Linked DNA regions of Homo sapiens. The protein of the gene in region 2 interacts with the protein of the main gene of each other region in a pairwise test. Each region holds a gene or a part of one and is shown on either strand. Other genes may lie near its edges.

The links.
Region 1: the proteins of CMTM6 (region 2) and BPIFA2 interact in binary tests that used the Homo sapiens proteins (3 or more experiments, as listed by UniProt).

The regions. Positions count from the first base shown.
Region 1 is NC_000020.11:33,164,043-33,171,172, reverse strand, and holds the start of BPIFA2 (BPI fold-containing family A member 2 precursor), read right to left. Parts: upstream 3,015-7,130; 5' UTR 2,964-3,014; intron 2,043-2,963; 5' UTR 2,028-2,042; coding exon 1,871-2,027; intron 1-1,870. UniProt on the Homo sapiens protein: Has strong antibacterial activity against P.aeruginosa.
Region 2 is NC_000003.12:32,480,802-32,485,873, reverse strand, and holds the end of CMTM6 (CKLF-like MARVEL transmembrane domain-containing protein 6), read left to right. Parts: intron 1-1,776; coding exon 1,777-1,914; 3' UTR 1,915-4,562; downstream 4,563-5,072. UniProt on the Homo sapiens protein: Master regulator of recycling and plasma membrane expression of PD-L1/CD274, an immune inhibitory ligand critical for immune tolerance to self and antitumor immunity.

The sequences.
Region 1 (7,130 bases), on a different chromosome or scaffold from region 2:
GACATCATGCTACCTGGCTTCAAACTATACTACAAGGATACAGTAAGCAAAACAGCATGGTACTGGTACCAAAACAGACATATAGACCAATGGAACAGAACAGAAACTTCAGAAATAACACCACATGTCTACAACCATCTGATCTTCAACAAACCTGACAAAAACAAGCAGTGGGGAAAGGATTCTGTATTTAATAAATGGTGCTGGGAAAACTGGCTAGATGTATGCAGAAAACTGGAACTGGATCCCTTCCTTACACCTTATTAAAAACTTAACTCAAGATGGTTTAAATACTTAAATGTAAAACCCAAAACCATAAAAAACCTGGGCAATACCATTCAGGACATAGGCACGGGCAAAGACTTCATGACACCAAAAGCAGTTGCACCAAAAGAAAGCAATAATTCTTATAGGAGGAGGAGGACAAAGTGTCTTTATGATAGGTCTCTGGAGAACAGGGGGATGGGAATAAATGTCGTGACTGGGTGTGGTGGCTCACGCCTGTAATCCCAGTACTTCGGGAGGCCAAGGCAGGAGGATCACTTGAGGCCGGGAGTTCGAGACCAGCCTGGGCAAAATGGTGAGACTCCACCGCTACAAAAAATGTAAAACTTAGCCAGGTGTGGTGGTGTGCACCTGTAGTCCCGGCTACTGGGGAGGCTGAGGTGAGAGGATCAGTTGAGCCCAGGAGGTTGAGGCTGGCAGTGTACTCTAGCTTGGGTGACAGAGTGAGACCTTGTCTCAAAAAATAATAAATGTCATGATAGATACAGGATGATGCTCATGAAAATAATTAAGTATATATGAGAAGAAAATAATTCAAGTGAGAAACAACAGGGCAATTACTAACTTAAGGAAAAACAAAAGACTATACCGTATAAGAAAAGAGATGTAATCATAATATTGTAACTTGGCTCTGTAATGGACAATATCTACCTAGTTATAATGATTCAGAGAATGACACTTTAAATAAAATTGGTGATATAACTACGTCTAATCGTATAATTCACGAGGTGACTTTGGTTTAGACATTTCTGTCTCTGGGCCTCAGTTTTCTCAGCTGTGAAATTAGAGTGTGAGTCCTTTCTGCATCTTTGAAAGTTACCTAAGCCCTTGACAAGGTTTGAAAGGCAGCCATTTGCAGAAGTTACCTCCTCCTACAAAAACTGTTTTTGATGTGCTGCTAATGTTTCCATAAAACAAAAAGAAAGCCAAGTTATTTTAATAGGTTAGCATAAAAAGGAGGTATAAATAAATATAAAGGTAGGTAGCTTTACAGATACCAAGGCTAGGTAGGGATAATTTCCTTAATTTTCACTGAATTAACACAAGTCCATAAAAGAATATTAAACAACCCAAAAGAAAAATATGCTAAGAATATAGACAAAATCCTCAAGTTAAAATATGTAAGTACATAGTAAATATATGAAAAAAGAAGAGGGCTCCTTCATAATTAGAGGAATGCAAAGTGAAATAAGTTATAGCTTTTCATCTGTGAGACAGGCAGAATATTTAAAGTTGTCCATACCCAGTGCTGGAAAAGGAGTGGGAAAAAAGGCACTTTCGTAGACTGTTGGAGAAAGTGTTAACATAGGAGATTATTTGTCAACAGCATAGTTTTTGAACTTTTGAAATCCCACTTGTAGGAATTTATCTTATGCACGTTTATCAGGATATAATATGTAAAAGGCTATTCATTGTGGCATTGCTTGTTTCTAGAAAGATAAACGAATGAGTCAGGAATTGAATAGCCACTTTTCTCAGTAAACCGCCCATAAAGAGTAGCCCCTGGTGGCAGCCTCTGGTAATGCAGGCATAGTGTTTAGGAGGCTAATTTAGGTGACACTGTTCATCACCCTTGTTGATTTACCTTTAAGAGTATTGTCAACTGTCTCAAGTCCCTCGTGAAGAACAGGTTCCAGCTTATCCACGACATTGCTTAGGTCATTGCCAAGATTGTCAAGAAGAGACTCTGAGGTCCCAGTGAGCACGCCGCACAGGAGAACAAGTTTCCAAAGCTGAAGCATCTTTTGTCTTGACACCTGGACAGTCATGGGAAGAACAGGAGTGAGAATTGCCCAGAGGGAAATGGACTCTTCAGTGAGTTCCCATCACTCTTAACATTTAGCATTCCATTAAGATAGATGTGGTTATTTCCTATTTTACAAATGGGCAGCCAAGGTCAGAAAGCTACAGCAACTTGCCCGGAGACACACAGTCAGTGAGCAGAGGAGCTGGGATTTGAAAAGTCAGACTTGACTCCAAGCCCATACTCTTGACACAAAGTTCCTTTTCATACGCTGTCTTCTCTGCCTAAAATATTTTTCTTCTTCTTTACTTTTCCACTTAGGTCAATTCCTACATCATGCCCTCTGTGAAGCCTACTGTAGGCCCCTTCCCAGATTCTAGGTTGGAGGAGTCCCACCTTGCTGCCTTCATTATCCTGATCAAGGTCTTGGATAACACTTCCCTGATGATTTGACCACCTTTCCTACCAGGCTGTGAACTCCTTAGAGGAAGGACTGTGACTTATTTCACTGTCGAATCCTCAGGCGCCAGTAAAAAGCCTGCACCTAGTACAGTACAGTAAACGAATAAATCTTTGTTGAATATAAGTATGAACAAATCAATGGAGACCACCTCATGACCCTGCATTGTTCATTAGTTTGACACTTATTTTAATATAATCTATAGATCTCTAAATTTACTCTGATTTGCCATTTGTCTTGACACCTGGACAGTCATGGGAAGAACAGGAGTAAGAATTGCCCAGAGGGAAATGGAATCTTTAGTGAGTACTCATCACGAACTTGCCATTTAGAGCACATTTAGAGATATATTGATTATCTCTGCTGTATTCAAAATATTAGCTAACCCAAGCAATCCCACCCCTCTGCCTCTTGCCCCCAAAGCCTTCCAAAGACCACCACGTGTGGTGCCACTGGGGGGAGCACGCCACTCACGCGTTTAGAGGAGGATGCTCATGAAATCCTTGCCCCACTGCACAGTCTGCTGGGATTCTGCTGAATGGTGGCGGCTATTATATGGTGGAGATGGGATGGAAGGCTGCCCACAGAAGCAAGCCTTGGTTCTGGGATCATCCAAGGACACTCCAAGGAAAATAACCCCTCTCCAGGATGAGCAGAGAGAGAGATTTCCAACTCAAAGGTCACCCAGGATGCTTGAATTGAAACGGATGGCTATGGAGAGGGCTTTCCGCCAAGACTAAGACCAGGTCCTCATGGAGCCTGCAGCTACCGAGGGGGTGGTCCTTGGTCCTTGTGGGTGAGGACTGGGAGAAGACTGAGAATGAATGAATTGGAGAATGTCCTGGCAGGAGGACCCATAATGACCATCCGGTCTAACTCCGTCATCATTTGGAAACTGAGGCTCAGAGAGGGGAAGCCACCAGCCTGGGGTCATTCAGCAAGACAGGGACCGAGATGGGTCTAGAATTGTGGCCCACAAGGAGTCAGACAGCCTCCCAGGGGTCCTGCCCCCAGGGGTCTGCACCCGGCAGGTGCAGCAGATGCCTGGCAGCTGCTTGTGCTGACACTGGGCTTGGTGTCCCTAAAGGGCACTTTAGATGCACTTTTCTGTTAGTCTTTATGAAAACTCTGTAAGGCAGGTTTTCAGAGCTCCATTTTCCAGTTGAGAAAGCTGAAGTTCAGAGAGGGAGGTGGCTTGTCCATACTTGCAAGGACAGGAACCAGGCATTTGGGCCACCAGGGAAGACCCTTCCACCCATATCAGGCTGAGGTCAGTTAGCAGAGAGGGAGAGTCCCTGGGCCTGAGTATCCTGTTTTTGCTTCGGCCACTGATGTTTGGGTTGGTTGTAACGCCTGCTGCATTGGGCCTGTGTCAACCCGGAACAGCACAGGAAACTCGGGTGGGTGCCCACTTGGCCTCAGGCTGGGAAGGACTGGCACAGAGCTCAGGGTCACCATAGGTCTCTGCCCTTCTGCTCACCCACCTGCAATTCAGCAAGGACCTGGGGGGCCTGTCCTCAAAATGATGCAACCAAGCAAACGGTGGGACAAGACCAGTGGCTCCAGGAGCTGGCTGTTCCTACACTGACCATGGCTCCACTGTTACAGCACAGAGCTGGGCGGCTGCAGGAAGGTGATGGCCAGGCCCCAAGAGCCCAGACCATTAGACCCCTGCTGCAGTCTTGCCTGTGGTCTTGAATGGTTGTCACACCTCCTTCCCTGGCTGCCTGACACCGGGTTCTCCAAACGTCTGAGCCCCGCTCTTCCCCCAGTTGTGAAGCACAGAGCCAAGGGCTGTGCTGAAATCTTGTGAAGGCAGTTTGTCCCAGCCCAGGAACATAGCCCAGGGTGCTGAGCATGATGCAGTGACCTCGAGACCTGGTGTTGGCCCAGGCCTCAGTTGCCTCATCTGTAAAATGGGTAAACACGCTGTTCCTGGATCTCAGAGGCATGGTGGACAGGCAAGGACCTAGGAAATCAAAACGATGGTGAGGGGCTTTGAGGGCAGTGCTCAGAGCCTGGCACTGGGCTTGGGCTGTCCTGGGCATGAATACTCTCTCTCTGCTGGTTGCTGGCCATGTGACCTGGGCCAGAGACCGCACCTTGCTGAGCCTCAGGCTCTTTATCTGTGAAATGGGACTAAGAACAGTGCTCACCTCAAGGGCATGCTGTGAGGTCAAATTAGTGTAATACCCATGAAGGCTTAGCATAGGGTAGGCCCATGATGCACGGCAACAGCAAAGATGGCGAAGAAGATGCTGATGAATATGTGCGCATATGGTCCCGGCTTACGATGGTTTGACTTCAATATTTCAACTTTACTATGGGTTTACTGGGACACAACCCATTATAAAATGAGGACCATCTGGCCAGGCATGGTGGTTCACACCTGTAATCCCAGCACTTTGGGAGGCCGAGGCGGGCAGATCACCTGAGGTCAGGAGTTCGAGACCAGCCTGGCCAACATGGTGAAACCCTGTCTCTACTAAAAATACAAAATCTAGCCGGGTGTGGGGGCAGGCATCTGTAATCCCAGCTACTCTGGAGGCTGAAGCAGAAGAATTACTTGAACCCAGGGGGTGGATGTTGCAGTGAGCCAAGATTGTGCCACTTCACTATAGCCTGGGCAAAAGAGCGAAACTCCGTCTCAAACAAACAAACAAAAATAAAATAAAATGAGGAGCATCTGTCATAAGATTAATATTATATAATATATAATATAGGGTCCTTGGTGGGTGGGGAGGTTGGGATCCTCAGAGGTCACCCGAGGTTCAGGCTGGCTGGTCTGAGTCATTCCGGAAAAAGAAACAGTGACAACTCCTCCTGTGTGCTCCTCCTCCTCCTCTTCTTCCCTCTCCAGGTTACACAAAGTCTTCTCACATAGAAGATGTTTGCCTCTTAGGGACAAAGGCCCCAGCCATGAGGGTCGCGAGATGAATTTCTTATTGAAAATTCCCAGTGAGGCATTAAAGATTAGCTGTGCCAAGACTAGGACATCCTACCTGCTGCGTGACTGCTAATCCCCAGCTGGGGCAGCTTCCTGATCCCACTGGCCCAGCCTTAACCTCCAAGCTGGTATCTTTTTCCATACCTGGCTCAGTGCCCTGGCTAGAAACAGCCTAAGAGGTCATGCAGCCTACTGAGACCAGAGAAAGCGAGTGACAGGGCTGGGGTTGCATGAGGGGCCAGCCAGGCTGGGGGGTGCTCAGCTGACCAGACTGCCCACTGACCTTCCTTCTCCTGTGGACAGAAGCAGCCCCCACCCCTTCTCCAGATAACAAACACACAGGTGTGCACTCCCATTGCACCCATCAAAGATAATTGCCTTATTTTGCTAGTAAAATTGCTGAAAGGCTTGTCACCATTTTGCCTGTGAAATCAGTCAAGTACGAATCATCCATCCAATTTCTAGTAGGTCCTGGTTTCTCACACTTGAACTGCCTACTCAGGAATTCTGGGCAAATAAGAAAGATCAAAGCAACAAAACCTGTTCACACGTTACTGTCCTTCCTGTGACTGCTAAATAGAGCAATTAATAAAGTTGTCACAATGTTACAGTCTGAAGACCTTTAATTCAACTTTTGGTAATTTTGACTTTGCCGGGTTTTCTTCTGGTGACACAGTTTATTCTTTCAGCGCTCAAGTATTTCCCTAAGTCCCGGATTCCACATCTGGACACTAATAGACCCCTCTCAAGTCCTGCCTTTAGAATATGGAGAGCCACTTCCTATGGACTGACAGATGGAGGGGGCCTTGCCCCACTGCAGGCTGGAGTCTTCTTCCTCCTGTCCCATGGAATGTTCCCTGAATGCTTCATCCAACACTCCCAGAGAAAATTTAAAGGAGTTTTCACCGGGTCAGGGTCCTCCCCTGGGTCCTTTGAAGTCTGGGCACCTTGTCTTCGTTCACCTTCGTTCCCCCAGAGCTGGCACAGGGTCTGGTCTACAGCAGGAGTCAAATGATGTTTGTGGCAGGAAAGAAAGGAAAAAGAGAGAGAGAGAAGGAGGAAAAAAGAGAGAGGAAGGAAAGAGAGAGGGAGGGAAAGAAGGAAAGAGAGGGAAGGAGGGAGGGAAGAAAGGCAGGAAAGGAGAGAGGGAAGGAAGAAAGAAAGAAAGAAAGAAAGAGAGAGAGGGGATGTGGAGAGAGAAGAAGAAAGGGAGGAGAAAAGGAAGAGAAGAAGGGAGGGAGGGAGGTCAGCCACGTCTCGCCAGTCCCACTCTCTGAGGGCAAGACCACAGCATCTCCGAGGTCCCAGTACCCAGCACAGGGTCTGGTTCCCCTCATGGGCATTGACTTTCTGTCTTCCCCAGGTGGGTGGGCCTCTTGACATGAGCGAGCTCTCTGGGTCGCTCCCTGTTCTCACCTCACTCCCTGGAATTTGGCCCCTCAATCTCTCTGTGCCCTCTCTCATCTTCCAGATCCTCCCTGCTAAAGTGGGCCTGGCCCTGTATCTAGTCATCTGTCCATTTATTTATTGTTCATTCACTTTACAAGTGCAAATTATTTTCTGCTGGAGCCACTCATGCTTTTGACAACCCTTTAGTGGGCACCCCAAGCCCTGTGATGGGGTCAAAGATGTCTGAAGCTCAGTCCTTGTCCCAGAGACAGGCCAACTCCAGGGCAGTAGGTGAGCTGATTCGA
Region 2 (5,072 bases):
GTTGTAATTAATAGAGTTGTCAGCTAATACATCATTAAAACTGCATTTTATGATAGAAAACTCAAAAGGAGTTCAGAGAATTGCATGGCTATATTTATCTATTCATATGACAACAGTTTCTTAGCACTTACATGTGTAAAAACAAAACATAGAAATAAAATTAACACTGAATCTTGATTCATTCTAGCAATAAGCAATATTTATTCATGGGTACATGAACCAATAGAAGAGAAAAATCAAAGTTTTAATAGGGCTTTATGGTTAATTTCAGTTTAGAAACATTTTTGTTGCAGAGGAGTATGAGATGGTGATCAATAAAATAATGAGTTTTTTAACTCATTTTTAATTTTAAAAAGCTCTGGCTACTTATTTGTATAAAAATACATTACTATAAAATTCTGTGGGGAAAGTGAAATGAAGTTGAGGAAAAATTGAGTTCCAGGGAAAAAATTTACAGCTATAAAAAAAATTTTTATATTTTAATTAGACTGTCCCAGTATTTATATTTCATTGGATATATTTAATAGTGACAGGTAGTTTAAAAAGCTGATATTTATAATATGCTGGAAATTACCTTTTGTAACTATTTAAATTATGAAAAGTTTTATAGACTTAAATGCATGAGGAAGTTCTTTTTTTTTTTTTAATTCAGAAGTGTGTGAACAAAAGAGCTAGAAGATGACTTGTGGTGATCAGAGACAGCTTCAAAAACAAGGGTGACATTTGGTCTGAGTTTGATGTATTTAAGAAAGTTGCCAGGAAAATAAGGGGATAAATGCCATCAAGTCAAAAATAAAGATTCCAGAGGGAAAAAGACTTGGCTTTTGTGGCGGGGGATGGGAGGGTGGGAGGCGTTGATAATTAAATTTAGATTGGATATGTTGGGGATATCTGGGGGACTTAATGAATTTGGAGCTCAGTTTACTTTGTGGTAAAATGAGGTGGAATGCTTATTCTTTAGAGGGGGGAGGAGAGGTCAGGAGACTGCAACAGACTGTAAGAGAATGTTATTAATAAAAATCGTGGAGATAGGGAGTTTAGATTTGGAAGAGACTTTAGCCATCACCTACATCAATTTTCTCTTTTTTACAGAGAACTTATCTGGCCCCCATATCCTTAAGGGTTTTGCTAGTGGAGAAGCTAAATTTGAAGCAGACGCATGGTCTTCTGTCTCTTGATAGAATTCTCAGAACGTATGATCGTATTTTAGAAGAGAACAGTTGAGGAAGTGATTTAAGGAAGAGGAAGTAGGTAGTGGCGTCATGTCACTGTGTCATTGCAGTGTGACAACTGGAACATTATTTAAGTAATTTAACCTAATAGTATCTTCAAAATGGAATTTCTGTTTTGATATTAATAACTTTTTTCATTTTCACCTAGGCTGAGTTGCCTAGTCACGTATTTTCCTTATCGCATCTGTGGGTCAATCTAACCATGCAAATATTTTTGTTTTGTATCATTTTATAGGATTTAATGTTTATCTGTTAACCCTACTTTCATATATTAGCCCTCCACATATAAACATGCACACATAAGGCAGAACATTAATATTTTGTGAGACTTTGACTAATAGCCATTATTCTGGAAGTTTTTCTTTTATAACTTCTTTCCATTTTTTGATGACTTAAAAAAATTTTTTTTACCATTAAAGAGTAGTCGTGTATAAGATAAAATTCATGAACATCTTGTTTATATGAAACATTCTCCAAGCCAAGTAGGAAATGTAAGATTATATTCCAAAATTCTCATATAACCTTTCCTCCTTTTTTTCCTCAGGTGTTTGGATTTATAGCAAGTTTTATGTTCCTACTTGACTTTATCACTATGCTGTATGAAAAACGACAGGAGTCCCAGCTGAGAAAACCTGAAAATACCACTAGGGCTGAAGCCCTCACTGAGCCACTTAATGCCTAAAGACTCTGGGGAGCAGATGTTACCTAAGGTAGTGACCCTGCATTGTGGTGCCTGAGCCCTGGCAGAAGCTCTTGTAAAATTTGTTAATTGTTTAAACCACTTCTTTTGGAGAGCAAGGGGAAGGTCAAGAAGGCAGTTTTATCAATATTGTGTCAGTCACCACAAAGTAGGCCAGATAAGTTAAAAAAAATTTTTTTTTAAATAATAATTGAAACTTATCTCAAATGGAGATTTTGGTGGGAGGAGGAGAAAACAATTGTTTTTAAATCACACAGCTCAACGGTTGATAAATGATTCTGTCATTCTGTTACAGGTCATTCTTTTACTAGGCTTAGCTTCCAAATTATGCTTTATAGCTGTATAAACATCGTGATTATATTCATCTACTTAGAAATTGTTTTATTTTTAAATTAATTTGCTTAGCTGTTTGTTTTGATGCTTAGATTATGTTCTGTTAATGGGAATTTAACATATTTAAGAAACCAATATTTAAAATGTTGGTCTAGGTTTTTTTCCTTAACATATATTACCAGGCTTTACTGTATTTCACTCAGCCTTAAATGTTATAATATTTTTGGATAACGGTTATTAATTCTTTGAGACCTTCGTATAGCCTATAAAATGTATGGGAGATGTTGGTATTTTATGTGTATAAAAGCAACAATATCAGCAACTTCGTGTTTATACTGCACCTTGGTTGTTGATGTCAAGTAAAAAAAAGATTGTTTTGTAACACATAAAAAAATGGAAGAAACTGATACCACACCTAAGGACCAAAGATAAGAAAGACTTTTTGCCCAAGACAGTGAAAGTAATTATAAAAACAAGCTTTGACCACTTACCAAGTATCTGAAGAGATGAGTTCATACTATGATTTAGAAAGTGGTTCAATTCCCCTGTTGGCATATGATTATTTTTACTAAAATTAATACAGCTCTGTGGGTCTTCCTTAGTGTTTTCTTTGAAGCCAATCTGTTTTTTTTAGGACACCAGCCTTTGGTTTTTCATCTGTTCGAGATGCCTCTTCTCTGTCTCCTTATCAGATAGAAATGGAGTCATGTGCTGCTGCTTCATCTAGCAGAGGTTGGCCTCTGGCTCTGACACTTTTTGTCAGTTGTCTTTAGGTGGTCCTGAATCTTGGGCCCTTTTGATTGTGAATACTGTGTAGCAGGATCTTGAGAGTCCTTGTTCTTACATAGGCATTGCTCTAGTTTGTCTTTGGCAAAAAAAAAAAAAAAAAAAAGTAAATATCCAGGGAACCCTGCCCAGACTAATACTGTTGGTGGCATAAGAGAATCAAGCCATTCTCAAGAGATAACTTCATAACCAGAATTGTCTGTTGGCTAGCAGCTGTCACAGATAGGCAGGGCACTTGGGATATGACCTTTCTGTCCAGGTGATTCACAGACTAGACCTTTCTTATCCTCCTCCTAGAGTTTTGACTTGGGACTCTAGTGTTAAGATGATGAGCCCGTGCATCAGGTCCTTCTGCACTTTGGTGGAAGTCTCCCAGGGTAGGTTTCCTATTTGAAACAGTGGAATCATGTTTCCAGTGATAAAGTTTAATGACCTCATCCTTTTTTTTTTTTCTCATCTGCCATTTGTGTGTCTTAGATGGGTTTTAATTGCATGAATGTGGCTAATGTGGTTCTCAGAAATTGGTCAGTATGGCCCAACATAGCTTCTGCTCTGTCTTACTGACTCAATACCTTTAGGATTTGTATCAGAGTTTGGATACTAGTGTTAGTGGTGGTGTCACCACTACTTAATTGGGAGATAATGAAACCAATCATGGATGCTGTTTTTATTGGGCATGTCATCTAAGAGAGGAGAAATAGCTGGGTTTTGGGTCTAATTATGAATAAGGACTGATTCAGAAAACGAGTTTATGGTAGGTAGACTAAAGTTTCACATCAGACTGTACCATTGTGATTTAGACCTATCTAAAATTCAGAGCATATCATCTGGGCTACCTCAGGGTCACCACCCATGTATTGGGCTTAGTCAGGATTGACAGATACATTCTCAGCTGGCCTGTCATATAAAACATACTGTCATTGAGCTTAAGCTCCGCTTGTTCTGAGGTTTCACCTCCATGTGTTTCATTGGTGCAAAAGTGGATCTCTTAGTTGGTCACTTAATTCTTTCTTTTTCAGAAAGATAGTATGTTCACTGGTATATTTGGTCACTCTTAGAACCTTCCTTCACATTGTTTTTTATGGGACCCATGAATGGTTAGCCTTTCTTTTCTATTGTAGAAGGAAATAAATAGGAGTAAAAAGACCATTGTAGTAAATAAGTTCAAGGGGAACTTGGGACCAGAAACCACTGTTATGTACAAAAAAATGGCAAATTCAATAAACTCAAATTTAAAATAATTTTTAAATTAACAGTTATGATAAATTTTATATTTTATACAAATAGATTGCTTAGAATGGTTCTCAAGAATTATAAGAGAAATGAACTCACAGTACAAAAATTTTATAATTACTATACTTGTGTTTTGTTTGGGGGCTGGGAAATGTATTTTTACATTGTAGCCAATCATTTTATATTTGTCAATTTAAATCTTATGGGTCTTTTTTTTTTATCTCTCTTGATGTCAGATTTTATAGTCTTTTTAAATAAATCCATTTAATTAAAACGTTCTTACCTTTGTAAGTGTTTATTACAGAAGTGTGATGTTTAAATGAAAAGCTGTCTCTGTAGTTGTGGGAGTTGGCTGCACAATCTTGTTGAGTGCCTATATAGAATACTAGATTTTAGATATATCTAGGATAGAAAAGAAACAAATCCATTTCCCATCCATAAACTGTCCCTCTTGTTGGAAAGTTAGAATACACATTTAAACAACATTTTTAGGGAACCACAGAGGAAGACTTACAAATGGCTTTAAATACTTCCAAAGAAGCAATTTAGACTCCTTGTCACATTTCTAGATGTGGCTAACAATGCTAAAAACAAAATAGGCACATTATCTTAGGAACTGTTCAATGATTGGGAAAGTGTGAAGCAAAATTATTAGGGTGGTGCTGGTAAAACTACAGCTATTTGTGTAGTTTGCGAAATTCCTGCCTCCACCCTGTGTGAGAATAACAGGGTCTTTATAGTCATCAAGAACTCACTGGAATTTGTACATTCTTCAGAGTTTAGAGTTG